2 separate regions of the Homo sapiens genome follow, and region 2 is linked to region 1. Evidence: fine-mapped expression QTL. A gene starts in region 1. The other region holds a variant in brackets. All regions are shown on one strand. Distances are between the middles of the regions.

Region 1 (14,456 bases):
CCACGTGGTAGAGGGTCCAGAGGTCCCTCAGTACAAGCCTGGAAAGAGGAGCTTCAGAGAGATCTCCACTCAGAGAATATGACTTGTGTCCTCTACAGCAACAGAAGACACAGGGCCTCGTATCTGATTCCAAGGATAAGAAACCCAAGGGTCAAGAGGTGGAGGCTGCCAGACTAGTGGCAGGCAAAACAAAAAGAAGCAAGCTCCATTTCCACCAGTCAGAGGACAAAGGCTCTAACAGGTAAGAAAACTGAAGTCTGTGGCTGGAGCCAGCAGTGACGGCAGGAAAACCCTCTGTTTGGCATGCCAAAAATCTATGAGTTTCCATGCATCAAGCAGACACTCTAGGAAGTAATTGTGCTGGAAAAGCCATCTTGATATGATTTCCCAAAAAAGGCCGACTGGCAGAGCAAAAGCACTCCTGCACTTTCAGGGGCTGGAGCTGAGATAGAGGCCAAGAGTTCAGAATAACAAAATATAAAATAGCTAGACAAGCACAACAACATATACATATGAATGACCTTGTAAGTTATAAACTAGAATACTCAGGCCAGCCTCGGTGGCTCATGCCAGTAATTCCAGCACTTTGGGAGGCGGAGACGGGAGGATCACGTGAGGTCACGAGCTCGAGACTAGCCTGGCCAACACGGTGAAACCCCCCTCTCTACTAAAAATATAAAGATTAGTCAGGTGTGGTGGCACGCATCTGTAGTCCCAGTTACTCGGGAGGATGAGGTGGGAGAATAGCTTGAAGCAGGGAGGCAGAGGTTACAGTGAGCTGAGATCATGCCACTGCACTCCAGCCTGGGCAACAGAGTGACAGAGTGAGACCTTGTCTCAAAAAAAAAAAAAAAAATTAATGGAAAAATAATGGTAACTTATTCTTACTTGGTATAAACAAAAACCTATTTTAAAGTTACAGTAGGTGGTATTGGCACAGAAATAGATCAGTAGAACAAAAGAAGAAGTTCAGAAATAGACTTCAGCATATGATTCAGTATATGATTTCAAATCACTAACAGAAAAAAACAGTCAATGAATTTTTTTTTTTTTTTTTGGAAACAGGGTCTTGCTCTGTCACCCAGCTGGAGTACAGGGCATGACCATGGCTCACTGCAGCCTCAACCTCCCCTGTTCAAGGGGTCCTCCCACTTCAGCCTCCCAAGTAGCTAGGACTACATGTGCACACCACCACGCCTGGCTAATTTTTGTATTTTTAGTAAAGACAGGGTTTCACCATGTTGGCCAGGCTGGTCTTGAACACATGGCCTCAAGTGATCCACCCACCTTGGCCTCCCAAAGGTTACAGGCGTGAGCCACTGAGCCTGGCCTCTGTTAATTCTTATTTTTTGTAAAGATTGTGTGTCGCCATGTTGCCCAGGCTAGTCTCGAACTCCTGACCTCAAGTGATCCTCCCACCTCAGCCTCCCACAGTGCTGGGATTACAGGGGTGAACCACCGCTCCTGGTCTCAATGACTATTAATAGGACAACTAGCCAACCATTTAGCAACGATTTTTATTTAAAAAGATACCTTCCCCTGCCTCACTCCCTATCCTAAAATAAATTATAGATGGATTAAAAATTTTTAATGTTTAAAAAAATGCTAGATTATATTTAGTACCTTGAGATTAGAAGGTCCAACATAAGGAAAAAGACTGATAAATTTGACTATACAAATTTAAAATTTTTGTGTGGCAAAATATAATACAAACAAGATTGAAAAATTATGAACTCGAAAAATTGTTTACAAAACATATGACAGGAATTAAAATGACTACAACATAAAGAGCTTTTTCAAATCAAAGACAAATAGGCCAAGTACTGAGAAAAAGACAACTCACAAAGACAGAATTAACAACTGGCCAATCAACAAGCAAAATAATCAGAGAGACACAGACAAAACATTGAAACATCCTTCTTCACATACCAGATTAATCAAGATTAACAATACAACAGCACTCAGTGGCGCTGAGGCTTTCTGCTGGTAAGAGTGTAAATTTTTGTATAAGTTTTTGCATAAAACTCTTCCAGCAATCTGCACTGTAAAATGTACATAGTTTCCATTCCAACAATTTTACTTCCAGGAATGTGGCCTAAGTGATAATTGCATACCTTCATACTGACTTTTATAAGGACAATAAACATCTGAAAATATTCTAAATGCACAACAGAGTATTGGTTAAATGAATTATGGTACAAACTTATAATGCAGTCATGAGTGACATGAAAAATGTGGCCTGGAAATGATGACTGAAAGAATCATGTTACAAAACCACACACAAAATTTGACTCCATTTAGGTAATCCTGAGTTGAGTTTGACTCTATTTTGGTAACCCTGAGTTGAGCCCAAAAAGTATGGATCTAGATGTGCATGCCCCACCCCCCACCCACCACACACACACACATACTCCACCACCACCACCCAAAGGATTCACTCTCTCTGAAACAAGAGCACACACTGCCTTTTAAATTGACTTGCTTCATGGACTCACCCTCCCACAAACTGGGGCACAGAAAAGGCCACATCCTTCCTCCCCAGAAGCAGGCACTGCTTTGTTGGTTCAGTCTAACCAACAAAGGATGTGGTAGGTAAAAGGTTCTTACAACGCTATTTGATTGACTTCTATGAGACCATTGAGTTCCTCTTAGAAGAAAAGAATGGGAAAACAAAAGGTTTAGAAAATCAGAAAATGTGAGATTAGCAATGAAAAGGGAACACTGAATGTTCTTTTTTATTTCCTTTAAAATCAATTTAAATATTAATTTTATTCCAAGCTAAAGTGGAATTTCAAGATAATCACTTCTGCTCTGGTCTTACCTTACGTGCCCCACTGCAATTTCAGGTCTCGAGTCAGAGAACAGACTATTTCCTCTTCCCCTTAATTAACCTCCATCCATTTGCTTGATTGTTTGTGGCTCCTTCTATAAGGGATGGGTGGAGGTGCCTTACAGTGAAAAGACAGGTATACATACACACACACTGTATATATATAGATTGGAAATTCAAAGGCATGACATTCCTGGGAACCAAAAAGCCTGTCCAAAGATTAGCTCCATAGCTAGCTCAAGGGCTTTCAAATGCCAGAAAAGAGAACTAGGGCAGCCAGAAGACTTGGCCCCACAATTCAAGTATTAACACTGAGCAATTCTGTGTTATAATTTGCAGCAGTTAGAGGAAATCCCAAAGTCCACGTTTTTGTTATTTCAGTAAATTTTTTTGGATCTCACTCTGTCACCCAGGCGGGAGTGCAGTGGTGTCACCACGGCTCACTGCAACCTCAGACTCCTGGGCTCAAGCGATCCTCCTGCCTCAGCCTCCTGAGTAGCTGGGACTACAAGTGCACGCCACCATGCCCGGCTAATTTTTAAAACTTTTTTTGCAGACATGGGGTCTCGCTATGTTGCCAGGGCTGGTCTTGAAGACCTCCCAAAGTTTAGTAATCTTATATGAACTGCTTTTACTTTTCTGCATTGTACCCAGAAGGTGATGTTTTACTTAATATTTAGTCAGTTATTTTAACCAGAAACTTTTAATACTAAGCAAGGGGGATTTCTTCCTTTCTATCACAATTATACTACATTCCATGTGGACAACTGTATCTCTGGCAGTTAATTCTAGAGGTGGAAATTAGGGAAGGGGGTAGTATGGAAGCATACAGCATTTACAAAACTGGCAAAAAATAAAATAAGTCAAGGGGAGGCTCAGATTCTTTCTTTGGACAAAGGTGGGCTTTGAGGAAAGATCCTCACTCATCAGAGGCCGAGCCCTACACTAACCACAGTAATTTGTATTGATACCCAATTTAGTTCAGGAGCTATAAAAATGTATGTTTGCGGCCAGGCGTGGTGGTTCATGCCTGTAATACCAGCACTTTGGGAGGCCAAGGCGGGTGGATCACGAGGTCATGAGATCGAGACCATCCTGGCTAACACGGTGAAACCCCATCTCTACTAAAAATACAAAAAATTAGCTGGGCACGGTGGCGGATACCTGTAGTCCCAGCTACTCCAGAGGCTGAGGCAGGAGAATGGCGTGAACCCGGGAGGCGGAGCTTGCAGTGAGTCGAGATAGCGCCACTACACTCCCGCCTGGGAGAAAGAGTGAGACTCCGTCTCAAAAAAAAAAAAAAGTATGTTTGCATTATTGCACATAAAAATTAAAAATTGAGAGCTATTTGTATTCATCTATTGAGAGAAACGGTCTCTGGGGGTTAGGATGGGGACCTGTCCCCATTATAGACCCGTTCTGGTCTATAATTTACCTAAGACGAGAGCAGAAAGGGTTTTAAATGCTGATCCTAAGTTGTCGTCGGAGGGCAGTACCCCAGAGGACAGGGGAATCATTCCTAACACTGGCAGGGGCCAGAGGCTGACAGCTGGCATTGAACACCTGAATGTCAGGATATTACTCGCCTCTCTCTAATTCTTCCCAATAGAGCGGATACACTCTGGACTCCCTGGGGTGGAGCAGCTACATGGGCAGTTTGTACTTGTTCCTCTTGTCTCTTCATCTGCCCATAAGCCCAAGGCACTCAGAGTCTTCCCTCACTGACACCCAGCAAGCCGGTGAACACACCGGCCCACTGCATTGGGAAGCCCTTTCCTTTTGCTAAGGACTGCATTCGTCTATGCTGCATCTTGAGGCTGTGCAGTATCACCTCCCCTCCTCCATGGTTTTTCTTCTCTAGGCCTAGCAGGCAAGGGAGAAGGAGAGATGCCAGAAGCCTCTGTCTTTCCTTCCCCATTCGTTTCTTACTGAGTCTTGGAGTTAAATTGTTAGTTAGTGCCGGGCGTGTGGCTCACACCTGTAATCTCAGCACTTTGGGAGGCAAAGGTGGGCGAATCAACTGAGATCAGGAGTTTGAAACCACCCTGGCCAACATGGTGAAACTCCATCTCTACTAAACATACAAAAATTACCTGGGCGTGGTGGGGGGGCCCTGTGGTCCCAGCTACATGGGAGGCTGAGGCAGGAGAATCACTTGAACCCGGGAGGCAGAGGTTGCAGTGAGCTGAGATCACGCCACTTCCCTCCAGCCTGGGCAACAGAGTGGGAGTCCATCTCAAAAAAAAAAAAAAAAAAAAGAGGAAAGAATGCCAATTCATGATTTAAAAGTAAAATCAAATAGACTCCAGCTGTCAACTTAGCATATTCACAGTAGGTCCAGCACCGCTTATATCTAATGTTTCATAGTTCATAATGGAGTAACATTCATAGTTACTGAAGTTTAGATAAAAGAAGTGTCACCCTCTATGGCAACCCCTCCCCTGAAACACACATGGACTCTAGTCTAGCCATGGGCTCAATACTGTTTTAAGCATTGCTACTACACTACCACCAAATCTCAGTTTCTAACAGGGGGCAAAGAGCATTTTTAGAAGACGCTTAGTAACAGAAAAATTAACCAAGGGAAGAACAATCTTAATTACGGGATATTTTTACTGGAATGTAGACATTACTTTTGAATATATAGGACAATAGAAATTGCATCAAAGCAATGCTGCCTAACAGACACAGCAGGAAACTTATTGGCATGGCCAGGCTAGTATATTTTCTCATTAGTATATCAACTAATTATAGGAAAAGTACTGTTTCTAAAGTGCTTGAAACATTTGCCTACGTCACTGTTCTCTTTTTCAATGACCTCCTTCATAAAGTCAAACTCTAGCCCAAACTTAAGCCCATCTCACTGCATATTGTAAAGAATGGATTCTGAATGAATTAACAGAAATGCTTTTATATAGGAGGTTGCAGAGATTCTCTTGCAGTCAATGTCTAGAGGAGCTGACCCTCAGGCATCACTCAGAGGAAGTCCCAGCCAAGATTCACAGATCTGTATGTAGCCTTCGGTCAATATCACAGTGTACATCAGGAGTCTCAAGTTCATTGCACAGAACTGGTCCTGTAGCAGGGAAGACTCAGAATTCCTGAGTTTTCTCCTTATGGTGACTCCTCAGGGATAGCCACCATCTTAAATCCAGGAATGGGGCCCAGCTGGGAATGGAGAAAGTTGCAGGCCCACATGCTCCCTGGACGGAAGTCACACGGAGCCTCTGTGCGGGCACCTGAGAAGCTGCCAGAACACCTGCCCAGCAGCAGTGCATCCTCCCCACTCAGTGTCCATCTGCCATCTAGACATGGAGGAGGAAAAGAAAAGAGACAAATATGAACACACTTTGGTTTTCCCACTGTGCATCTCTATGCACAGCTCACACGCACACCCATGGGAGGAGGCGAGGGGGAGCAGCATGGAAGCTCAGCCACCCCTCTGTGTGTGGCCAGGGCAGCCATCACTGGTCCTGCTCTTTTCCTGGGAAGGCATCCCCCATGCTACCTGGAGGTACAGGGTTAGTCATGCCTTTCACCGCTGAGTGTGCTCTGCTGAGCCAAGGACAACCTCCACCCACACTCCCTTTGACTCCCCTCATCCCCAGCTGTTCTTCGTGACTCTGACCCATCCTCCCCTCCATTCCAGTCATTTCTCAAAAATGACACCCTCACATACCACACCGCTGAGAAGGAGAGGAATGTGAGAATGATCACAACAGCCAGGGAACCCAGTCCAACACCCGCCATCTGCAGCAGCATGAGTGACGAATCTGTGGGACAAAACCACAGGCTTAGCCCAGAGTGCACGGCATCACCACCTCCCAGGAGGCACACACCCCACTGTGCTCAATCCATTTTAACCCAGAGCTTGGCCCCATTTAACAAAGAATCCCAAGAATGCCCAACATGCCTGTGTGTCCCCTGAGTTGGCCCTGTGGATATGCAGCCTCAGGAAATTACAGTTACAAGGTATTTCTGAAAAGGAAGTGTAAAGCCAGACCATGTTAAAGTTACAAGGGAGAAAACAGCTAATCTTGTTGAGCACACAAATACTATGCAACGTGTTACATTTTTTGTTGGTCCTCTCACAATCAATTACATTTGATAGATTTTTATGGGCCGTTTTCTTTTGCATGGAGGGACAAGTCATTATGATATTATTTGAATTTGGTTTCCAAAACTGATAGCCCTGATGGTCAGATAGAGCAAAGGAATATCCTTTGTTGAGTCACCTGTCATTTTCTCCATACCTCAACAAGGGTCATACTTCCCTGCTCAGGTCAGCAGGTTTACTGAGAGGATAAAAGTACTTTGAAAGACATACTTTCTATTTGGGGACCATCACATGCCAACTCCAGGGAGATCCCCGATTATAAACTAAAAAACACTCACAGTTGAGTTGCACATGTGGGCCAAGTGACTGACTTAGAGAATCATGTTCTAGATTAGAGCAAAAATTTCATTTTAATTTGCAAACACTTACTTAGCACTTACTATGTGCCAGACACTGTTCCAAGCACCTCACAAATATTCACTCATTTAGGCTTCTAACCAGCCTTCACATTGGGTACTATTATTATTCCCTTAAGGAACCAAGGTGGGAGTGGCTAAGTACAACTCAGGTCTTTACAGCCAGGTTAAGAGGAGTGCATTTCTATTGGAAACTCAGTACAGTACCTGGCACTAGTAAAACCAGCCATAGAATACACCTTGTGTTAAACAGCCCTGCAGAACTTGAAACCGCCTTTTTAAAAATTATAACCGAGAAAATTATAACCGTGAAAAAGATCTGACCTGACTGACTCCATCTTGCTTCTAACCTCCAAGTTGCCCCTGTTCATTCCTGGGCGTAGGCTGAACTAACTTTGGGAGGAACTCAGTTTATAGTTTAACTTTGAAACAAAGACGATAATAGCCCTTTCCCCAAACAAATCCCCATCCTGTCTGGGGACTAGACTGCCTTTGCAAGACTAACAAATTAGCCATGAGATTAGAAATTATGGTTTAGGGGTCCTACAGCTGGAAGCTGCAAGATTCTGAACTGCTCAAATTGCTCCTAGGGCTAACATCACTATTGTAAAACCTAAGATCAGTGCTTGAGATATTTTCCAGACCCTGCACTCCATGGATCGGCTGGCATCACCCAGATCCATAAACTGGTTCATCTGATCTTGTGGCCCCCAACCAGAAATTGACTCAGTGCAAGAGGACAGCTTCGACTCTGTGATTTCATCTCCAACCCAACCAATCAGCACTTCTGACTCACTGACCCCCCCATCCCCTACCCCCTACCCACTAAGTAATCCTTAAAAACCCCATCCCTGAATTTTCAGGGAGACTGATTTGAGTAATAATAAAACTCCAGTCTCCCATACAGTTGGCTCTGTGTGAATTAAGCTCTTTATTGCAATTCCTCTGTCTTGATAAATCAGCTCTGTCTAGGCAGCAGGCAAGGAAAACTCATTGGGCGGTTACTAATTCTCAAAAAATGCTGCCAAGAGCCTTTCTAGAAAACATGGCTTATATTATTTGGTTGCTTTTAGTCTATAGAAGAAAAATGGCCTTGACACTTTAAGAAGCTAGATTACTTATTTTGTTTTATTTTATTTTTATTTATTATTATTTTTTGAGACAGAGTCTTGCTCTGTCACCCAGGCTGGAGTGCAGTGGCATGATCTCGGCTCACTGCAACCTCCACCTCCCGGATTCAAGCGATTCTCCTGCCCCAGTCTCCCTAGTAGCTGGGACTACAGGTGTACTCCACCACGCCCGGCTAGTTTTTGTATTTTAGTAGAGACAGGGCTTCACCATGTTGGCCAGGCTGGTCTCGAACTCTTGACCTCAGGCGATCTGCCCATCTTGGCCTCCCAAAGTGCTAGAATTATAGGCATGAGCCACCATGCCCAGCCAAGAAACTAGATTATAAAATGGAAGGAGAAACAGTGATTAAGTGAAGAATTAGTAAAGAAAAAATATTAGGAGAGTGACTTGAATTGCAAGACAGTAAAACAGTGCAGTATTAGAATAGGAATGAATACATTGGAACAAAATAGCCTAGAAACAAATCCAAGCATATCAAATACTTTCAAAGTTTGAATACTGGAGTCAGATGTCCAAGTCTTTATCTGAACACCACCACTGCCTGTGTGACTTTGTGCAAGTTATTCATCCATTCTGTGTCTCAGTCCCCACACTGAGGGATGCTGTAATAACATGGGAATGATAGCAATACTACCCACCTCTAGGTAGTGGGAGAAGTCAGTGAGTTAGTACAGGTTGAAACAGTGCCTGGCACAGAATAAGCAATAAGCAAATGTTAGCTATTGTTAATTATTATTGTTTTTGTTGTTTTGATACTGTTTCAGATCATTGGGGAAATGATAAATTTTTCATAACCAGTGCTGAGAAAATTGGCTAACCATTTAGAATCAAATAATTTTGATCACTAGAGCTTACACCATATATCAAAATAAAATCCAGATGGATTACAGACTTAAATTGAAACCTAAAAGGATTAGGAAATGTTAGTGAATATTTACCTAATATTAAAGGGGGTAAGAAATTTCTAAGCATATTCGTTAACACAGAAACCTTAAGAGAATGAGAGATTTAACCACTTTAAAAAGCATGCACTTCTTATACCAAAAACTACCATAAGCAAGATTAAAAGGCAAATGGCAAGCTGGATAAAATATCTAGAATAATGGGCAAGAAGTTAACATACAGAGAGTGTTACAGATTAATAAAGACATACCTCAATAGCGAAATGAGAAAATTCTACGAAAAGGTAAATCACATGAAAAACATGATTACAGATGATCAATAAAACTTTGAGCAAATGCTCTCTTACAAGTAATAAAAATGCAAATTAAGGCATTAAGATGCCATCTTTGTGCATGACTCAGAAACATTTTTTTAAATGCCATCTTGGTGGACTAATTAACTAGATTTGTTTTGTTTTGTTTTGTTTTTAAGAGAAAATACAATTCTGGAGATGAACGGGGGAGCTGGTACTTTACTGCACTGGCATTTCATCCGATCTACCCAGTATTCCTTCCAACTTCTGACATCAAGTTTTTTTCTGTGTATTTTTTCCTCTACACTTTAACCCTCTGTATATTTTAATCACTGATTGATGAATATGTTGAACTGAAGATGACTGTGGACAGAAATCCATATCATGCATATTCTTGGGTTTGATTTCAACTCATCAATAATTGTTAATGAGTTGATATCAACTGTGCATAGCCATTCAGCTTGTTTCTAAGCCCACATACAGCTCTCATGTCCCCACATTGTCCACAAGGACATTATTGTTATTATGCGTGCCATATTTCCCTGACCAATTACTGACTCTGTGCAAGAAGAAATGGAAAGCAATCTGACCTAATCTGCTCTTAAAGCTCCTGACTCCCGGGAACTGCTGTTTTTTCTACCAGGGATACACAAGCCATCACTTGAAGACCTTGCTTTGCCTTGACTTCAAGTTACCATCATCTACACTTCTGGTGGTTCTTCCTTTGTACAAAGTTCCTTGTTCTTTGCTCATCTCTAGTCCTCTTACATCTCTCCATTTTCTTCAAGGTTTATTGAAGATCATTTGCAATGGTTTATCCATCTCATGTGAAAATTGTATGAACCTGCCAGAATACGCTACATCCATGTTGGAAGACTTGAACCTATGTAGGGTAGCAAGCTCTTTTCTTTCTTCTAACTATCCCCTCACAAACGAAGAGGACAAAAGCTAAGTAGGAGTTAAGGAAGCTGACTTTCACTTGACCATCCACCAGCAGGATCTACCTGGGCACAACTATTCCTTACTCTAGACATAGTATTGGAAAATGATCTTTATTTATTCTGCATAGCACAATTTGGGTTTGGCTCCAGGAATGATTCTTGCTGGTAGATCAGTTCCTGGTTATATGTCTTTTTGTCTACTTTGCATATATACTCTAAAAATCTGAGTCAATCTAATCAAGAGTGCTCACAAGTGTTGCCACACAAGCTTCTTTAGAGACTTTCCTCATTAATTCCTTAATAAGAAAATTTACAACTGGCAAATTTGAATTGTATTTTTTATAGCCTCACCATCCTTTGGTTACCCTACCTTTCCATGGTCTCATGCCAGAGAACCATGTTTATTTTTCTTCTGAATCACTTGTAGAATATTTTTTTACAAACCCAAGTGAATCACTCATGTGTTATATCCCACATCAGTTACTCAATCTTGGAGAAAGTAAGTCCATTAAGACTAAACTTCACCATTCTCTTTATGGTGGCTCCCTCAAGAGAGCTAGTGCTCAGGAGGAGTGATGGGGCCTTGCTGGACTTATCTTTAACCCCTTCCCTGATAGAAATATCACATGCTGAAGAGGAAGTTAGAAAGGCCCTATTTCTACTCTCAGACTTTGTGACAGCTTGAGGACGCTCCATGGGTGTGGACATTTTTTCATGAATATACACGGGCATGGTCACTTCCTGAAAGCACCAATTCTGTTCTCCAAATGGTAAATAATAATAAAAATAATAATTAGCACAGTGACTTCTATTTACTGTGTTAAATTTCTCTTTGCTATTCTAGGGTCTTCTCACTTGAATTCCATTCAGAGCCAAAGATGGCAAAGGAAATCAAAGTGGAAAACTAATTTAAAGATAAGTTTAAAGATTAATTTAAAGATTAATGCTTGATACATTAGCAACACTGTTATATTCCATTTTTATTGCAGTTTAACAAATCACCACAAACTTAGGTAGCTTTAACCCATTTATGAGCTCAGAATTCTGTGGGTGGTAAGTTCAGGCACATTGTGGCTGGTTCTCTGCTCAGGGCCTGTATTAGTCCCTTCTCACACTGCTATAAAGAACTACCTGAGACTGGGTAATTTAAAAGAAAAGAGGTTTAATTGACTCACAGTTCCACAGGGTGTACAGGAGGCAAGGCTAGGGAGGCCCCAAGAAATGTACCATCAAGGCAGAAGGTGAAGGGGAAGCAGGCACAGTCTTCACATGGCCAGAGCAGGAGAGAGAGAGAGTAAAGGAGGAAGTGCTACACACGTTCAAACAACCAAATCTCATGAGAACTCTATCACGAGAACAGCAAGGGGGTAATTCATTCCCATGATTCAGTCATCTCCCACCAGGCCCCTCCTTCAATACATGGGGATTACAATTCGACATGAGATTTGGGTGGGTACATAGAAGAAAACCGTATTAGGGCCTTACGAGGCTAGAATCAAGGTCTCAGGTGGACTGAACTTCTTTCTGGAGGCTCTGGAGAAGAAGCTGCTTCCAAGCTCATTCAGGTTATTGGCTACATTCAGTTCCTTGCTGCTATGGTTTGAGTTTATATCCTCTGAAACTCACTTGAAATTTAATCCTCAATGTGGTGGTGTCAGGAGTTGGGACCTAGTGGGAACTATTTGGGTCATGGGGTTGGAGCCCTCATGAACAGATTAATGCCCTCTCTCAGAGGTGAGTGAGTTCTTGCTCTGGAGGGGCTGTATTACCAGGGAGCTAGTTGTTATAAAAATGAGTCAACTTCCTAGACTCTTTCTTGCTTCCTGTGTCATCACATGATCTCTTTGTATATACCTGCTGGCTTTTCCACTTCTCTACCATTGTTCTGGTGAGCATGTAGCCCTCACCAGAAGCAGGCCAGATGCAGTACTATGCTCTTGAACTTCCCAGCCTACAGACTCATGAGCTAAATAAACCTCTTTTCTTAATAAGTTACCCAGCCTCCAGTATTCTGTTATAGCAACACAAAACAGACTAAGACACTTGCAGTTATAGGACTAGGGTCCCCATTTTCTTACTGGCTGCAGCCAGGCCTTGCTCAGCTCCTTCTGTTAAGCTGCACTCCTTGCCATGTGGACCCCTCCATCTTCAAGCTGCAGGAGAATTTCCCTATGTCAAATCCATCTCATTCTTTGAAGCTCCAACTTCCCCTATCTCTGACCTCTAGATCCAGATTTAAAGGGCTCCTGTGATTAGGTCAAGCCTATCTGGATAATCTCCCTATTCGGGAGCTTAAGTACATCTCCAAAATCCCTTCACAGCAATACCTAGAACAGTCTTTGAATGAATAACTGAGAGAAGGTAGATGTATACCAAAGACAAGGAATTTGGGAACCATATTAGAATTCTTCCCATCACAACTATAAAGGTTTAAAATGATTGTGTGCATGTATATATGTACATATATACACATATATGTACATATACAGTAAATACATATGTATACATACACACTAGGTTTATATCCTGATGTAAGTCTTCTCTGGCTTATTTGATAAGTATTGCACCTCCTATGCTTCATTTCCCATAAAACTAACTGCTGCTTCCTCAGTAATCATTCAGCCCAATTCAGTGCATTCTGATTGAACACCTAATGCATGCCAGGCTCTGTTCCTCCTCTTCAAATGCCCTTCAAGGGTGTAAAATCTAGTAGTAGAAGACAGACAAAACAAGTGCACACCCATTGCTCTAAAATATAGCAGAATAGCCAAAGAAGGGCAGATCCTGCCCTGTTGAGAAAATTTAAAAAGCTTCAGGGAAGAAAGGGCATTTGATTTTAATCTTGAAAAACAGGTGGGATAAGCAGAGATTCACAGGTGGGTGATCAGGAAATCCAGATGGAAGTCGTCAAGTAATTATATGAGCAAGGACATTAAGAGGAGAAAGCATGGGCCATAGCCAGAAAACAGCTGGAACATTGGTTTGAATGGAGAAGAATAAAAGATGTAATTAGAAGGGTATGTTTGTGTCAAATAGAGGACTTGGAAGCCAAACTGAAAAATAATGGAGGACCACAGAAGCAGAGGAAACAAAATCAGTTCTGAGTTTAGAAACAAGTCAGGTGGTGGTGTGTAGGCTGGAATGACGAGGGAAATTCTGAACTCTTGTGATGGGAGATGAGGAAGGAGGATTTGCCCGTCATCCCTGCTACAGGTAGGAAGGCCTATGCTCAGGGAGTGAACACAGAAATGAAAATCAGAGAGGCGTGCCCAAGGTGCTAAATGTGGGCTGAAAGAGAAAAAGGAGTAGTCCCGAATAACTCAGAGGTTTCATGCTTACGACTGGAGAATGTTCCCCGATTACAGCTTATTATCATCTCACATATATCAAATGACCTTGCTTTGTGACTCAAGAAATCACAGACTCATAATACTCTGTGGCTGGAAAGCATCTCAGAGATCCCAGAGAGAGGGCGACTGAGAACTGGCCAAGTTAAATACTATTTCAAAGACACTTGGCTGATTAGTAGCAGAAGACTCAGGCAAGTAAGCCCAGGCCTCTGCATCTTCCATCAAACCGACTGCTGGTTTCCTGATCATCTTTACAAAGCTCTTCTAGGGGCAATATGCAAAAGGTAAATAGCATAATTTGTCACTGGGCAAAGGCCAGAATGGGGCTGAGCCTTGGCACGAGTGAACTGGCACGATTTCAGGACTAATTTAGATCTCGGTTCTCTGCAAATTACTTTCTGAAATGGCAGTCTCCAAACTTTTTTGAAAAAGTAGACTGCCCAAGATGGGTGCACAACACAGGTAAATGTTATACATAAAAAAGTATTGCTAGAATTGCCTTCAGAATTTCCACAGAACAGTGTTTTTCCTATTAT
Region 2 (16,783 bases), 140 kb after region 1:
TCTTGTTGCCCAGGCTGGAGTACAATAGCATGATCTCGGCTCACTGCAACCTCCACCTCCCGGGTTCAGGCTATTCTCCTGTCTCAGCCTCCTGAGTAGCTGGGATTACAGGTGTGGGCCACCATGCCCCGCTAATTTTTGCATTTTTAGTAGAGATGGGGTTTCTCCATGTTGGTCAGGCTGGTCTCGAACTCCTGACCTCAGGTGATCCATCCACCCCAATCTCCCAAAGTGCTGGGATTATAGGTGTGAGCCACCACGCCAAGCTGAGTGTATCCTTTTTCTTAATCTTTGCAGTTCATTTTCCCTCTCTCTTCTGCAGAGCTGAGGCCAACAGACTACTTGGGATTTTGAGCTACAGAGACCTAGCATCCCATTTTAGGATTTGACCAGAAGACCAAGAATACACCCAGGACCAAGTCCCTGGAGGTGGAAGACAAGCCATGGTGGGCATCTTCATCAACTCTAATCCTGCACCCTTTATTTTAAGTAACTTTAAATCACTCCAAAACAATCCACTCACTCTATTTCTCTTCTTTCCTCCTGTGGCTCACCCTGAATAGTGAATGTGCTGCTGTGATTCCTGAAGACAGAGGGAAGATCAAGCATGAAATGCATGATGAGTGAAGTCAGGTGACCTTTGTATACAGCAAGAACAACTTCCTGACCTCCAGCCAGGCCTGAGCCAACAGGCCTGACTCTAGCAACGAATGCCAGAGAAAGGTTAAGAAACAGGACTAACTGGTTCTACCCCTCCTCGCCCATTCCTACCCTCTGGACTCCCCTGGGCCCTGCACCCCACCCAGCCACCAACACCCTCCTGCCATATCAATTACGCGAAACACACTTTCCTTACACTCAGGTCATCTGACTTCAGTTCAACTGACTTCAGCTCTCCTCCCCAAAACATCTTTGATGCCAATTAATGTCATTCAGCCCATGTTGCCAGTGACAGACTGAATATACAAATGGACAATGGCCAGATCATATATATATATATATATAGAGAGAGAGAGAGAGAGAGAGAGAGCCTTGCTCTGTCACCTAGGCTGGAGTGCAGTGGCATGATCTCGGCTCACTGCAACCTCTGCCTCCCAGGTTCAAGCGGCTCTCCTGCCTCAGCCTCTGGAGTAGCTAGGATTACAAGCGCCCACCACCAGGCCCGGCCAATTTTTTTTGTATTTTTAGTAGAGATGGGGTTTCACCATGTTGGCCAAGCTGGTCTCGAACTCCTGACCCCAAGTGATCCACCCACCTCGGCTTCCCAAAATGTTGGGATTATAGGCGTGAGCCACCGCACCCAGCCCATATATTAAAATAGAAGTCTAACCCACAATCTGCAGCAATCATTCCAGGAACTCTGTAGCAATCAGCCCCAAATGGTCAGGCTTTAATCAGTAACGGCCAGCTACGCTAATTTTTGCCCCCAATTCCAACTTGGGACTAACCAGAAAAGCCAGATATGGCCCTCTCACCAATCACATGGGATGCATGCTGCTAGAAAACTTCTCCAGCTGGGCGTACCTGAACCACCACCACCCCCAACCCCCTTCCTTTTTCTACTGTAAAACTTTTCCACCCCCAGCCTATCTTTGAGTCTCTGCCAAATGGAAGTGATGATGGCTGACTCCCTTGTCACAGCAAGTTCTGAATAAATAGCCTTTGCTTATTCTTGTTTGGATGGTATTCATTTATTTGCCTACCAGATTCCTAATACAAGCCACTGTCCCTACCCACAAGGAGCTCTTAGTTTAGTAAACAATCACACTGCAATATGGTATAAGTGTACAACCAAGGCACGGAATATGGTATTACTGGTGCTGTAAAGAGAAGCGGATAGTGGCAACGGACTTCCTAGGAGGAGTGAGGACACCCAGGCTTGCTTTGAAATATGAATAGCACTCATTAAGTAGCCCGCCATGGGAGAAGGGAAACACAGTCCTCTAATCTTCTTCCTCGCCCCCCACTTTAAGAAACTAACCTCCCCCACTTATAGCCCAAGTTTAATTTTTGACCTGCTCTGTCCATTAACTATCTCATTTATTTTTGCTTTTTCATTTTTCCCCTCTCTACTAAATAATACCCCTCAGTCTAAAATATGTTTGAGTCTGTTTTGCATTCTCTAAACATCTTGGACTGACTTGACCAGCCCAGCTGAATGCTACCTTCGTTTTCCTTCTAATTTCTTTAAAGAGTATCTACTCCGAGGCCAGGAGCAGTGGCTTATGCCTGTAATCCCAGCAATTTGGGAGGCTGAGGCGGGCAGATCACTTGAGGTCAGGAGTTCGAGACCAGCCTGGCCAACATGGTGAAACCCCATCTCTACTAAAAATACAAAAATTTGCTAGGTGTGGTGGTGCATATCTGTAATCCCAGCTACTCGGAAAGCTGAGGTAGGAGGATTTCTTGAACCCAGGAGGCAGAGGTTGCAGCAAGCGAGATCATGTCACCGCACTCCATCCAGCCTGGGCGACAGAGTGAGACTGTCTCAAAAAAAAAAAAAAAGAGTATCTACTCCGTAAACAAGGTCTCTGCCCTCAACCTAGAGCCCTCACATCTAGCTCTCACCCTCTCTCCTCTACTAGCTCTGGGTCTCCACTGACCAGATCCATCCAATTCAAAGGCTTTTTCTCAATCTCTGCCTCTCGGCTTCCCATCTCCTAGTTTCCTTGACTAAATGAGCCTAGTCTTTCTCCATCCTACCCAGATGCTGCTTCTTCCTTCTCGACTTGCATCTACCATCTAAACTCCAAGAATCCTCTCCAAGGATCTGTCTTTCATCCTCCCAATCTTGTCAACTTCAAGGTTTCAAGCAACCATCAAGTCTATTGATTTCATCTCTCCAAATCCATAACAGCACCTCAAATTCAGGATGTCCAAAACAACTAATCATCTTTCTTTCCAAATCTTTCTCCTTCCGTAGAAACATATACCAAGTCACCCAGCCCCCAAGCCTTAGTGTCATCTTTCCCCTTCTGTTCCCTTGCACCTTCATATCTGTTATTAAATCCTTCCTTCCAGTCCATTTCCACCTTACTGTCTACATTCAGTCCGTTTCTGCTGTCATTACTGTGGGCCCAGTCCTCAGAACTTCCAGGCCAGCTATTGCAACAACTTCCTCAATGGGCTTGTCCAAGCCTCCAGTCTTTCCCTACATTGTCGACTGTCAGGAAACCTGCCCTTCATAAAACCAGGTTCTCCAAGGTTGAACATGAAGGGAGAATGTCTAGATAAGGAGAGGGGGCTCAACCAGGAAGCCTTGACTTCTGTTTCCCCAAATTCACCCCCAAAACCTTTAGTTACAGATGACCTTACGTAGCTACTAGCTGTGTTCAGCCATCTTAGTCTAACAATTCAATGGGATCATACTGGACAGTTTCCTACCTTAGAGATATCACAGGAAGATCCTGAAATAGACGCCAAGCATCTGCAAGTCCTATGCGCACTGTTCTCGGAGATAGAGCCAAGGAAGGAATCTTAACCAGGGCACCTAATATTACAAAAATGGCCACTCCAGAAGATCAAGCCATTGAAATACCCATCAGGCATGGTAAAAGTCCCAAGCCAAAGAGAATGGGGGTGGGGGCGGCAGGCAGGATTCTCAACCACAAGTCTCCTTGTATGTCATCACATGGAAATTTCCTTCCACTTCAGGATCAGCGTTTGGTTTTAGTAAGGAAGATGGGGGTTCCTTAGACCCTCTTTCCCCCGCCTCAAGTTTACTTATACAAATAGCAAAGGAGGACATCAGCCCCATGCAGATGGCAGTCCAAGGGGGACAATCCTTCTGTCCTCACGTTGGCAGACACAGATCTCTACTCTGAAGGCTTTGTAGGGGCCTGAGCTCCTTCGGGAGTCTGAGCTGGAACTGAAGCTGGAGCTGCAGCCTGAGCCTTGGTTTGATCCTTGACCTTGGTCTTTGGCTGGCACAGCCTGAGCCCCTTGGCAATGCGGGCACGAGCACGTTTCCCAAGCTTGAGGTGGGCAACGTAGGCAAGAGCTGACACCCTTTGGAATCTTGGGCTTAACCTCCTTGGGGTTTATGAGGGCAAGGCCTCAGCACGTGCACTCATGGCCTTGGCACTGTCGCCCTGCATCTTCTTTAGGCCCCTCTTATTGTGCTTCTTGGCAAACCGCATGTTTGTCAGGAACTTGGGGTCCACCCCTTTAAAAGATTCGTATCTTTGTGATCCGGGTTTCATGATGCCGTTTCTGTGCCATTTTCGGGACTGGTTGTGTGTGGTGTGGTGCTTGGATTTGGCCATGTCTGCACTGTAACCTGTGGCTCCCGAAGCGCCTAGAACTGGCTAGACCCACTTTTCTTGTCACTCCCTGAGACGGCTTCCAGTGGCTTCCAGGCACAGCTAAGTCCAAAGGCCTAGGTCTGCCAATCAAGGCACTCTGCCCTCTGCCTCTGGTGCCTCCGTGTGCTTCCTTCCCTTCTCCCCCGGGCCTGAATTCTGAAGGAATTCATTCATTCTACACTCATTTGTGGAGAGGTGACAGTGCCTTCTGCTATGAGCTGGGATACCTTTTTCACATTTTCCCATATCCAAATATGACCAATCATTGATGGCCCAGCTCAAGGGTCACCACCGATTCCCCTTTCCCTGCCCTCACCACCCACACCTTCTCATGGCACCCATGCCATTCTGCCTTGTATTACAGTTATGTGGATGAATGTCACCTCCCCTGCGTGTCTGAATCCTCTGTGTAATTCCTACTCAGCTCAACACTGCATTTTGCAGAGGAGGAAAAACAACTCCCTCGATTGCTTGGAAATAGAACATTTGCTGGTCTAAATCCTCCAGACAATGAGCTCCACGAGGGCCCGCACTGCCCGCCCTCATCGCGCACAGGGAAGCTGTTCAAGGGCCATCTGTTGAATGAATGAGTGAATTAATGGCTTCACTCCTGTACTCTTCCTTACGCGTCTTTCTCACCATATTTAGCATCCGGCTCTCTAACAACGTGAAAAAATTAAAAGTGGTAAGAAAATTGCTTCGGGTCAAAAATGTGTCATGCAAAAGCCACCGCAGAGCCGGAAGCGTGACAGCGCCGCAGAACGCCCTGGCCTCCCCGCCCTTCCCCGGGCGCCGCCCTGCCCGGGTCCGCGCTCGCGCCCAGCCCCCACCCCGCCTCCTGGGCAGTGGAGGTCCCTGGGGGCCCGGCCAGGCCGCCTTAAAACCGGCGTCCCCCGGCGTCGCGGGGTCGGGCGGGGGCAGGGAAGCCCGGCGGGGAGCCCCCCGCTTCTCTGAGCTCCTCCTTGCCGATCTCCAACGGCCGGCGCGGGCCCCACCTGCGCCCCACGCCTCGGCACCGCGCCGGCCCGGCCCAGGGGCGGGGAAGCGTCCGTGCGCCCAGAGTCCTCGAGGCCCAGCCGGGGGCCCCGCCGGCCGCCCGTGCCCGTCCCAGCCCGCACTCACCGTCGGGGCCCGGCGCTCCCGCGGCGCCGCGGGCCAGGCCGAGCAGCAGCAACAGCGGCAGCAGGCGGCGAGACGGGCCCGCATCCCAGGGCCCCCGGCCCATGCCGCCGCCGGTCCCTCCCGGCGCGCCCGCGCCTCCTCCCGGGGCCCTCAGGGTGCAGAGATAAGGCTACAGGCGCCGCGGGGAGGGGACCAGCCGGCGGCTTCCGGCGCCGCCGAGGGAAGCGGGGGGCGCTGCGGGGTCCCCGGGAGGCCGCAGAGCGCGGGTCCTTCCTCTTGTCGGGGCCTGGGCTTAGGACACGCCCGTTCCGCGTCCGTCTCTGGCTCCGCACTTGCTGCCCTCTCGCCGCTCACATTCGCAAAGGGGGACAGACACTCATCGGATAATGACACAGCTGGACGCAGAGCCCCGGAGAGTGCTGGGGAGGAAATGTTGCGGAGGATTCAAGCCACTCGAGGGCTCAGGGAGGCACCCCCGGGGAGAGGGGTGAGGGGAGCAAGGGGCGGAAATCTTCCAGGACGTGAAAGGGAGCTGGATGAGGTGACCACAGCGCAAGGCCCAGATGAGAGGTCGGAAGACGCAGACCCAGGCCACCCAGGGGCGACACACTTGACCAGGTGACACCTGGTCACCGGGAGTGAGAGAGAGTAGGGCTGTGATGGAGGGAGGGGCTGGCATCAGTCCCCGCTGCTCTGAGGACACCCGGCTTGGGACGCGCTGATGCCAGCCCCTACCTCCATCACAGCCGTACTCATCCCAAGGGAAGGAGTAAACCAAGACCCAAGGATGAGAAGGACGTTGGGGAGGAATCTAAGCGGGAGTTTGTTGTAGAAATGGGGAATGGGGACCTAGAGTGAGAGCAGAGGGTTGGAGAGGGGCGTTGAGCTGCAGAGGGAAGTTAGCCCTCCTAACCCAAGTGATGGAGGTCGCCGGGAAGCTGTCACAGTTTCAAGCAGTGAATGACTTCATCACTGACACATCTCTGTCTGTTCTGTGGAATTGGGATTGGGGTTGGGTTGGGATGTGGAAGGCAAAGAGTCCAGCCCGGAGTTGCTGCAGGAATCAGGCAATAGAAGACATGTCCTGGCCCGGTGCGGTGGCTCACGCCTGTAATCCCAACACTTTGGGAGGTCGAGGCGGGTGGATCACTTGAGGTCAGGAGCTCGATACCAGCCTGGCCAACTTGGTGAAACCCCGTCTCTACTGAAAAAAAAAAAATTAGGTGGGCACGGTGGCAGGCACCTGTAATCCCAGCTACTCGGAAAGCTGAGGCGAGAGAATTGCTTGAACCCAGGAGGCGGAGGTTGAAGTGAGCCGAGCTCGCACCACTGCACTCCGGACTGGGCGACAGAGTGAGACTCCATAGACAGATAGATAGATAGATAGATAGATAGATAGATAGATAGATAGATAGATAGATAGACAGACAGACAGACAGACAGACAGATAGAGATAGAGATAGATGTGTCCTGCAGCTGGGCATTGACAAATGAGTGTGAAGAGGGCAGTGTGTAAGAGTGGAATCCACTAGGTTTTATGACTAGTCGGGGAGAAGGAAATAAATAAGATCCGGTTTGAAGGCTTTGAGCTTGTGATGTCTGTGGGAGCGCAGCCGAGAGCAGGCACCCCACTACTTCACCCCATATCCTCACTTGTTTACTCTCTGCCATGAGCCTGCCGTAAATCTCACCACTTTCAAACACACCCATATAAGGGCTAAAGTTGTGGAGTCTTAACAAGTAGTTAAAAATCAACTTCAAGCTGGGTGAAGTGTGGCATGCCTGTAGTCCCAGCTACTAAAGAGGCTGAAGGGCAGGAGAATTGCTTGAGTCCAGGAATTCAAGGCCCATGTGGGCAATACAGTGAGACCCCCTCTCTTAAAAAAACAAACAAACAAAAACAAACAAAGAAAAAGCTCATCTTCCTAGGCTCTTTTTTCCTCTTGGGGAGACAAGGTCTTGTTCTGTTGCCCAAGCTGGAGTGCACAGCTCACCACAGCCTCAACCTCTTGGGCTCAGGTAGTCCACTAGCCTCAACCTCCCAGTAGCTGGGACTACAGGGGCGCAGCATCATGCCTGGCTCATTTAAAAAATTTTTTTTGTAGAGACAAGATCTGGCTATGTTGCCCAGGCTGGTCTCCAACTCCTTGGCTCAAGCAATCCTCCCACCTTGGTCTCCCAAAGTGCTGGGATTACAGGAGTGAGCCACTGCATCTGGCCTCACAAGCTCTTTTCTTAGCAGGCTTTCTTGAAAATTATTTTTGATCAACAAAGACAGGCACCTGTTTGGGGAGCAATAGATGGACGGTGTGTCTCTATTATTTAGACAAATTTTTTAAGTTCAGCTCTCCATAAACTTCAAACTTGGAAATCATGTCATTGTTTCAACAAATATACCATTCACTTAAGATTTTTAACCAGCCTATACCACTTCATCCCCACTGTGGCCCCTTGCAAAATAAATAAACTTAAGTATATATGTATATACATTTTTTATTGATAATGTCAGGAAAATTTGTCCAAAACTTGGAAATGGGCAAAAGAGATTACTGGGTATCCTTTCAGTGGGGTGCTGGGTGCACCGTCGCTGGACTTCCTATTGACTAGGCTATTTTGCAGCACTAGAGGGCTAGAAGTTAACTTGCCGAAAACTGATGATAATGTAAAAGATTTATGTCCATAGCAGTGAAAATGAATGTTTTCCAAGAGAAATATAAGTGATCAGTCCTTTCTGCCAGAAAATAAATAAGTTAAACCCACTAATTTCATTTTGTCCTATATGATACTAACTAGTTAACCAGTTTGGCACCTATTAGCAAATTCATGTGATCATTCCTGATGT[T/C]GGATTTTCCTTTGAACCTTAACATCTTGCTAGTTCTCCTTTGAGATCAACAACTTACTGAGTCCTCCATTAATCAATTGAATAGAATCTTAGATATGTTTTCATCTTATAGTTGCATAAGTCATGTTTTCAACTTTTTGAAAATTATATTTCAGGACAATCCATCTTACTCTATATTCCACATTAGATTGCTTGACTTTCATCAATTCTTTTCATTGGCTCATTTTTAAATTTCAAATACATATTTTTGGTTAAAACAATACTTCTTACTCAATGGTGAGTTCATTGGATCACATAATGAAAAATTATCTCCTCATCCAACAGTATTTGTCACAAGAATTAAAACAGAATCTTGAACCAGTGTTAAGTTTGGAGGAACAGTGGGATTATTGCTGACAAAGTATTTGACTTAAGAAAAATGTTCTTTCAAGAGAGCATGGTTAATATACCAGCATTTTCTAAAAAAGAACTTGAAAGAAGCTTTCTTCTCCTTCTCCCTCTCCTCCATTTCCTCCTCATTCTTCTTCTTCTTTCTTTGAGACAGGAGGATCTCACTGTGTCACCCAGGGTGGAGTTCAGTGGTGCAATCATGGCTCACTGCAGCCTTGACCTCCCAAGCTCAAGCGATCCCTCCACCTCAACCTCCCAAGTAGCTGGGACTACAAGCACATGCCACCATGTCCAGCTAATTTTTTAAAAAAAATGTAGAGACAGGGTCTTGCTGTGTTGCCCAGGCTAGTCTTGAACTATTGGCCTCAAGGGATCCTCCCGCTTCAGCCTCCCAAAGTTCTGGGATTGCAGTTGTGAGCCACTATGCCTGGCTGAGACTTAGTGTTTAGTGGGTATCGACTTTCAGTTTTGCAAGATGAAAAAAGTTCTGTGGATGGATAGTGGTGGTGATTGCACAACAATGTGAATGGACCTAACACTGAACTGTACACTTAAAAATGTTTGTTTGTTTGTTTGTTTTTGAGACAGAGTCTCACTCTTGTTGCCCAAGCTGGAGTCCAATGGCATTATCTCGGCTCACTGCAACCTCTGCCTCCCGAGTTCAAGCGATTCTCCTGCCTCAGCCTCCCAAGTAGCTGGGATTCCAGGCACATGCCACCACGCCTAGCTAATTTTGTACTTTTAGTAGAGACGGGGATTCACCATGTTGGTCAGGCTGTTCTCAAACTCCTGACCTCAAATGATCCACCCACCTCGGCCTCCCAAAGTCCTGGGATTATAGGCATAAGCCACCACACCCAGCCTTAAAAATGTTTAAAATTGGCTGGACGCAGTGGCTCACACCTGTAATCCCAGCACTTTGGGAGGCCGAGGCAGGTGGATCACGGCGTCAGGAGATCGAGACCATCCTGGCTAACACGGTGAAACCCCGTCTCTACTAAAAATATAAAAAAGTAGCTAGGCGTGGTGGCAGGCGCCTGTAGTCCCAGCTACTCTGGGGCTGAGGCAGGAGAATGGCGAGAACCCGGGAGGCAGAGGTTGCAGTGAGCCGAGATCGCGCCACTGCACTCCAGCCTGGGTGACAGAGCAAGACTCCATCTCAAAAAAAAAAAAAAAAAAAAGTTTAAAATCGTTTTTAAAAATTCAATGACAAAAAACGTTTATGCCCATTTTTATTTTTATTTTATCAAATAGGCAAATATTAAGGACTTTCCAAATTAGTTTTGGTTCTGGCAAATCTATATGGGATCAGGTTTACAAGAAAGATATCTTGGAAAGCCCCATTTTTCCCAATATTCCTGAGACATAAGTGAATGGGATTTCGGGAGAGCTCTGAGAGGACTCTGGAGAGCCATGGGTATGGGAAGGCAGAGGGCAGGCAAAAAATTTCATTCTGAACACTGGTTCAGTATCTCTAGGGAGATTTTCCCCCAAGCTGCTCTTCTCAGTGTCGGATTCCAGTGTGAAGAGGTTTGGGGTTTGTCCAGTGGGTTCCCATCTGGCTACAAGGCCAGAAGGAGAATCGAGGAGGGAGATTGGATACTAAATATCCTGGGACTCTCCTGGAAAAAAATCCATTCTTGCTTACCACACTCCTGACCATAAATGATTACAGAGACTGCTTTGGGACAGCTCCTGGCAGGCTTGCAAATTGTTATTTTTGTTTTTAATTTAATTTATTTATTTAGAGACAGAGTCTTGCTCTGTCGCCCAGGCTGGAATGCAGTGGCGTGATCACAGCTCACTGCAACTTTCAACTTCTGGGCAAAAGCAATCCTCCCTCCCCAGCCTCCCATAAATTGTAAATAAATTGTTTATATGTGGGTTTTTTAGGAATGGCTTGAATATCTAATTGTAATGAGTTTAATATACTCTGGGGTTGCACTTACTGCCTGAAGTTTGCATTAACAGAAATAATTTAAATATTTGAAGCCTTTGAAGTATATTGGCTGAAAACTTGTGTGTTTGAAACAAAGTAACAGTCCCTCTGTAACAGTCTGCTCCACCCCCACCTCATCTAACCCTGGCTGACTCGACATCTGTGAAAACCCCAAGGCCACCTTCAAAGAAGCCACATTACCCCTCCCAGAATGGAGTCATCATCTCAAGCAGATTTGTAAAGGCTGATAAGAAGGACCTGTCCCTCTGGAGAAATGCCCTTCTGATGAAGTCTCTAACTCAAACAAAGGCCAACTTCTCATTTTTTGAAGCTTAATGACTCTCAGATACTTTGCTGCTATTGGAGAAACAGTAGGATTACTCTGCCTTCTCCAGCATACCTCTCCCTCCCTTTAGACACACACATACATCAAACACCCTACCTGGAGTTAGTGTGTAGACCTTGGGCAACAAGTGCACTATTGTCTGCTGCACGTGGCTGTGCTACAACCAGTGTGTAATTTACCCAAAACGCTAGTATTCTCAGAAAAGCAAAACAAGCATGGGTGGAAAGGGACAGCTCAGCTTAGGGGACAAGTCCTGGACTCCCTATTTTTACAATAGTGCTCTCTCTCCTCACTGTAATGGACTCAAGAGACCCTGTGATCCCCCCAGCAGAAGCTGGGGCAGCAGCAAGATTTAGATTTGGACTTGGATTTGGGAGCAAACTTCAGACACTGCAACAGACAAGTTCAAGGAGCAGCAGGCTTAGTATTCACCTATCCTCCCCCGACCTCAGGTGGTGGAGACAACACCAAGTGAGACAGGCTGTGTCACCCAGTCTCTGTCTCTGTCACACACACACACACACACACACACACACACACACACAGCATCACCTTCCTCACTTGCAAAAGCCTCAGCTGTTGGTGTTTTTATTCCACAAACCCTGAAAGGAAGCCTGCTGACAGCCCATTTCCGGACCCAGGATCAGCCACCCACAGCCCTAAGGAGAAGCAGGCCAGGCAGTGGGGACCAAATCAGCAATGAGCAGCACAGTCGCTGAGGAAGCCACAACAGCTGTGAAGGCGGATGGTTCCAGACCTTCACTGATAGAGAGACCAGCTCACAGTGAAGACCCGTATCATCGACCTGGGCAAATAGTGCAATCTTCAAAACAAAAATACTTTACTCAATTATTTTGCAATGGACTTAGCTACAAGCTCTATTGGTTTCTTTGCTCGCCACTGTTTTTCATGTCCTATGTCTTCCTCTTTTCCCACTTCTCCTCCTCCTTCACCTTCTTTGGGGACGTCTTTGAGTATCTGTTTCAGAAAGTATTCCTGGGTGGTAAACTTCGAATCTTTGCAAGTCCAAATACATATTGATTTTGCCCTCATAATTTTTTTTTTTTTTTTTTGGAGACAGGGTCTTGTTCTGTCGCTCAAGCTGGAGTGCAGTGGCCCAATCTTGGCTCACTGCAACCCCCGTCTCCTGGGTTCAAGCGATTCTTGTGCCTCAGCCTCCCAAGTAGCTGGGATTACAGGCATGCGCCATCACATCCAGCTGATTTTTGTATTTTTAATAGAGCCAGGATTTCGCTATGTTGCCCAGGCTGGTCTCAAACTCCTGGCCTCAAGTGATCTGCCTGCCTCGGCCTCCCAAAGTGCTGGGATTACAGGCATGAGCCACCGCACCGAACCCCATAATTTAATTATACATTAACAGAATATAGAATTCTGGATTCAAAATAATTAAGTGATAGGTTAATGTGGTCTAGAATTCCAGATTCAGATGGAGTGCTGCAGATGGAGGGTCCCATGCTACTGTGGTTATCAACCCCTTATAGGTGACATGTCATTCTCCTATCATATCTACCAAGCTTTGGGGGATTTTCTCTTTATCCTGGGAATTCAGAAATTTCATGAGGATATAATGTTTCATTATTCTTGCCTAGCACTCAATGGACCCTTTCAATTTGTAGAATTAAGGCTTTCTACAGGAAAGACATTTTTTCTATTAATTATTTGATTCTTTCATTCCCTCAATTATTTCTATTTATCCCTTCTGGAATGCATGGGAATTTTTTTTTAATAGAGTCTCACTTTGTTGCCCAGGCTGCCTTCAACCTCCTAACTTCAAGCTATCCTCTCTCCTTGGCCTTCCAAATGCTGGGATTACACATGTGAGCCACCATGCCTGGCTGGGAATTTTTTAACACTTGCCTCTAGCCTCCATGGCTGTTAGTATTTTTCTTTGACTCTTTACTTTCTTTGCCTTCATTTACTGAATGTGGGAGATTGCCATAACTCAATTTAGTGAACTTTGTGTTCATGAATTTGATCCTTATCCATGCCGTTCTGCTCTTCATTTCATCTGCTGAAATATTTTTATATCAGCAATCATGCTTTTAATTTCTAAGAACTCTGCTTCTTTGTATAGAATGGCTTTTTTTTTTCTGTAGTTGTAATGACTTCTGTTTTATCAGGAAGTTGTTCATTTACTTGTTGAGTTTGATGACTCTTCTTCTGCTGGTTTTCCTCAAGTGTTTCATGATTTTTGACTGTCCTTATTTCTACATGAGGGTCTCCTCTGTTATGAATTAACAGTTTATGAGAATGAATCAGATGGTGATATGGTTTAGCTCTGTGTCCCCATCCAAATCTCATCTGCAATTGTAATCCCCACGTGTCCATGTCCAGGAAGGGAAGTGATTGGATTATGGGAGCAGTTTCCCCTATGTTATTCTCATGATAATGAGTGAGTTCTCCTGAGATCTGATGGTTTTATGAGGGTCTCTTCCCTCTTCACTTTCTCTTCTCTTGCCTGCCACCATGTAAGATGTGCCTGCTTCCCCTTCCGCCATGATTGTAGGTTTCCTGAGGTTTCCCCAGACATGTAAAACTGTGAGTCAATTAAACCTCTTTCCTATATAAATTACCCAGTCTAGGTATTTCTTTATGGCAGTATGAAAATGGGGCCAGGCGTGGTGGCTCATGCCTGTAATGCCAGCACTTTGGGAGGCTGAGGCAGGCGGATCACCAGCTCAGGAGTTCAAGACCAGCATGGCCAATGTGGTGAAACCCAGTCTCTACTAAAAATACAAAAATTAGCCGGGCATGGTGGCGCCCACCTGTAATCCCAGCTACTCAGGAGGCTGAGGCAGGAGAATTGCTTAAACCTCAGAAGTGGAGGTTGCAGTGAGCCAAGATTGAGCCACTGTACTCCAACCTGGGCAACAGAGCAAGAATCCATCTCAAAAAAAAAAAAGAAAAGAAAATGGACTAATACAGGTGAGTTAAAAAAAAAATGGAATCAATAATTTGGCTATATTTCTCCAGGTGAGAATCTCTGCTTTCTTAGGAGTAAATGGAGATTTGTTTACAGTGGTTCTAGCTCCAGTGGTTGTGCAAAGCAGGAGGTAGGAGTGGGGAGATAAAGAGAGTGCATTTGAGACCTCCTTCTTGGTTGCCATACTTTCTCTGGCCCCAGTGCCTTCTCTGGGAGCCTCTTTTGTATCACTATTCTCATCTTATTTGGTAAGCAATAAGCTTCATTTACAGTTATCACTTGGGCTGGTCATGGTAATCCCAGCATTTTGGGAGGCCAAGGTGGGCAGATCACTTGAGGTCAGGAGTTCAAGACCAGCCTGGCCAACATGGCAAAACCCCATCTCTACTAAAAATACAAAAAATTAGCCAGGCGTGGTGGCAGGCACCTGTAATCCCAGCTACTCAAGAGGCTGAGGCAAGAGAATCACTGAATCACTTGGATCCAGGAGGTGGAGGTTGCAGTGAGCAGAGATCGTGCCACTACACTCCAGCCTGGGCAATAAGAGCAAAACTCCATCTCAAAATAAATAAAATATAAATAAATAAATAAAGTTATCCCTTGGGGAAAAAATTCAGAACTAGCCACTTCTAAAACAGAAAATAGGTGAAGACGTTTGTAGCTCATGAATAAATTACCAGTTCACTATCCTACCGGTTCCTTTTCCCATCTCTGCTATCTCTGAACCTGAGATAATTCTGGAGTTCTAATGGGAAAATGTACTATTTTGGAGATGCTCTCTTTCTGCTTTCATGAGATTGTGGGTGCCTCAGCTCTGTTATGTTTTTATCAGTCTGATCACATCTGCTTTATGTTTTCAGCAAATCTCCTGTTTTGCTGCTCTCATAATACCATGCCTGGATTTCCAGTACTGCTTTCAAGTAATTCTGCTCCCACCCCCGGCCTCCATTAAAAAAAAAAATTGAGATGTAACTTTCATGCAGTGAAATATACAAATATTAAGTATATAGCTTATAAATTTGTACTTAAACACACACGAAATATCCACCACCCAAGCCAAGAAACAGAGCATTACAAGCTCCTTGGAAGCTCCCTCATATATTTTATCAGTCAGTCCTCCATAAGTAATCAATGTTCCAACCTGTATAATCACCATAGGTTAGTTTTGCCTGCTTTTGAATTTTATGCAAAGTAAATCACTATTTATTTTTTTGCTTGTGACTTTTTATACTCATCATTGTATCTGTAAGAGTTACATCCATGTCGTTATCAGTAGAAGTTTGTTTTCTTCATTTCTGTGTAATAGTCCAATGCAAACATGTATATGCAACAATTTACTTACCCATTCCATTGTGGATGGACATTTGGACAATTGTCCATTTTTAGCTCCAAATAAAACTGCTATGAAACTTCTTGTATTAATACATGTTTTGGGGGGTATGTACAGTGTTTATTCTGCTGGGTAAATATCCAGGATCACAGGATTTATAAATGGTCAGCTTTAGGCGTATTGCCAAACAAATTTCCAAAGCAGCTGCTGTTCACACTTCCATGACTGATGCAGAGAGTTCCAGCAGCTCCATGTCCTTGCCAACATTTGGTTTTGTCAGTCATTTTAATTTTAGCAACTTTGATGTGTGTATAGGGGCCTCTTATTGTGGTTTTATTTTCATTTCATTGTTGACCAAAAATATTAAACACATTTTCTTTTTTTCTTTTTTTTTTAGATGGAGTTTCGCTGTTATTGCCCAGGCTGGAGCGCAATGGCGTGATCTCGGCTCACTGCAACTCCAGCTCCTGGGTTCAAGCGATTCTCCTGCCTCAGCCTCCCAAGTAGATGGGATTACAGGCATGTGCCACCATGCCTGGCTAATTTTGTATTTTTAGTAGAGATGGGGTTTCTCCATGTTGGTCAGGTTGGTCTCGAACTCCCGACCTCAGGTGATCCGCCTGCCTTGGCCTCCCAAAGTGCTGGGATTACAGGCATGAGCCACCGTGCCCAGCCATTAAACACATTTGTTTATTGACCATTTTGAAATCCTCTTTTAAGACATGCTATCACATATTTTGTCCATTTTGTAAAATTGGGTTATCTTTTTCTCATTGATCTATTGGAGTTTGCTTATATTCTGGATTTAAGTCACTTGTCAGACATATGTATTCCAAATATCTTCTCCAAGCGTATGACTTGCCTTTTCACTCTCTTAATGATGTCATCTGATGAATAAACTTAACTTTAAAGAAGGTAATTTATCAATGTTTTCTTCTATGGTTAGTGCTTTTGTGTTCTGTTTAAGAAATTTTTGCCTATTTGGCGATCATGAAGTTATTCTGTTTTCTTCTAGAGTAAACTTGTAGAACTTCTTATTTTACTTTTCACACTTAGCTCTAAAATTCATCTGGAATTAATTTTTATGTATAGTGTGAAGTTCATTTTTCCCCATGTGGATATCCAATTGTTACAGCATCATTTATTGAAAATACCCCTCTCCCTGCCCCCCAAGAATTGCAGAGGAGCCTTCATTATGAATCAGGGGATTGGGTATGTGTGGAGTCTGCTGCTAAACTCTATTCAATTCCGTTGACCAATTTGTCTATCCTTGCTTTAATACCACTGTCTTAAGTACTGTTGCTTTATTGTAATTCATATCTGGTAGTGAAAATCTTCTGGTTTTATTTTTCTTCAATAGTATCTTGGTTACATTTTTAGCATTTTCCATTTTTACATTATATATATAAAATGTAGGCTGAGCCATGATAATCACTTGAACCTGGGAGGCGGAGGTTGCAGTGAGCTGGGATTGTGCCACTACACTCCAGCCTGGGCCACAGAGTGGGACTCCATCTCAAAAAAAAAAAAAAAAAAAAAAAAAAAAGATCTCCAGCATGGCACACA

What was found. PIP is the estimated chance that this variant, and not a neighbour inherited with it, causes the effect.
Region 2: its variant is fine-mapped to the expression of LINC02977 in whole blood (INTERVAL, PIP above 0.99).

What each region holds. Positions count from the first base shown.
Region 1 is chr9:112,035,358-112,049,813 of GRCh38, forward strand. LINC02977 (long intergenic non-protein coding RNA 2977) reads right to left here and starts at 5,067. Exons shown (of 3, transcript NR_186812.1): 1 at 2,822-5,067. It overlaps SUSD1 (sushi domain containing 1), which reads right to left. Exons shown (of 17, transcript NM_022486.5): 16 at 6,510-6,603; 17 at 5,426-6,135. The coding sequence ends at 6,135. RefSeq lists enhancers at 5,675-6,314, 5,710-6,909, 6,315-6,953, 7,065-7,114, 7,205-7,274 and 1 more.
Region 2 is chr9:112,169,707-112,186,489 of GRCh38, forward strand. It overlaps SUSD1 (sushi domain containing 1), which reads right to left and starts at 5,591. Exons shown (of 17, transcript NM_022486.5): 1 at 5,427-5,591. The coding sequence starts at 5,529. It also overlaps the pseudogene RPL29P20. RefSeq lists a silencer at 5,050-5,709 and an enhancer at 11,343-11,492. The variant T/C (reference allele first, on the strand shown) is at 8,269.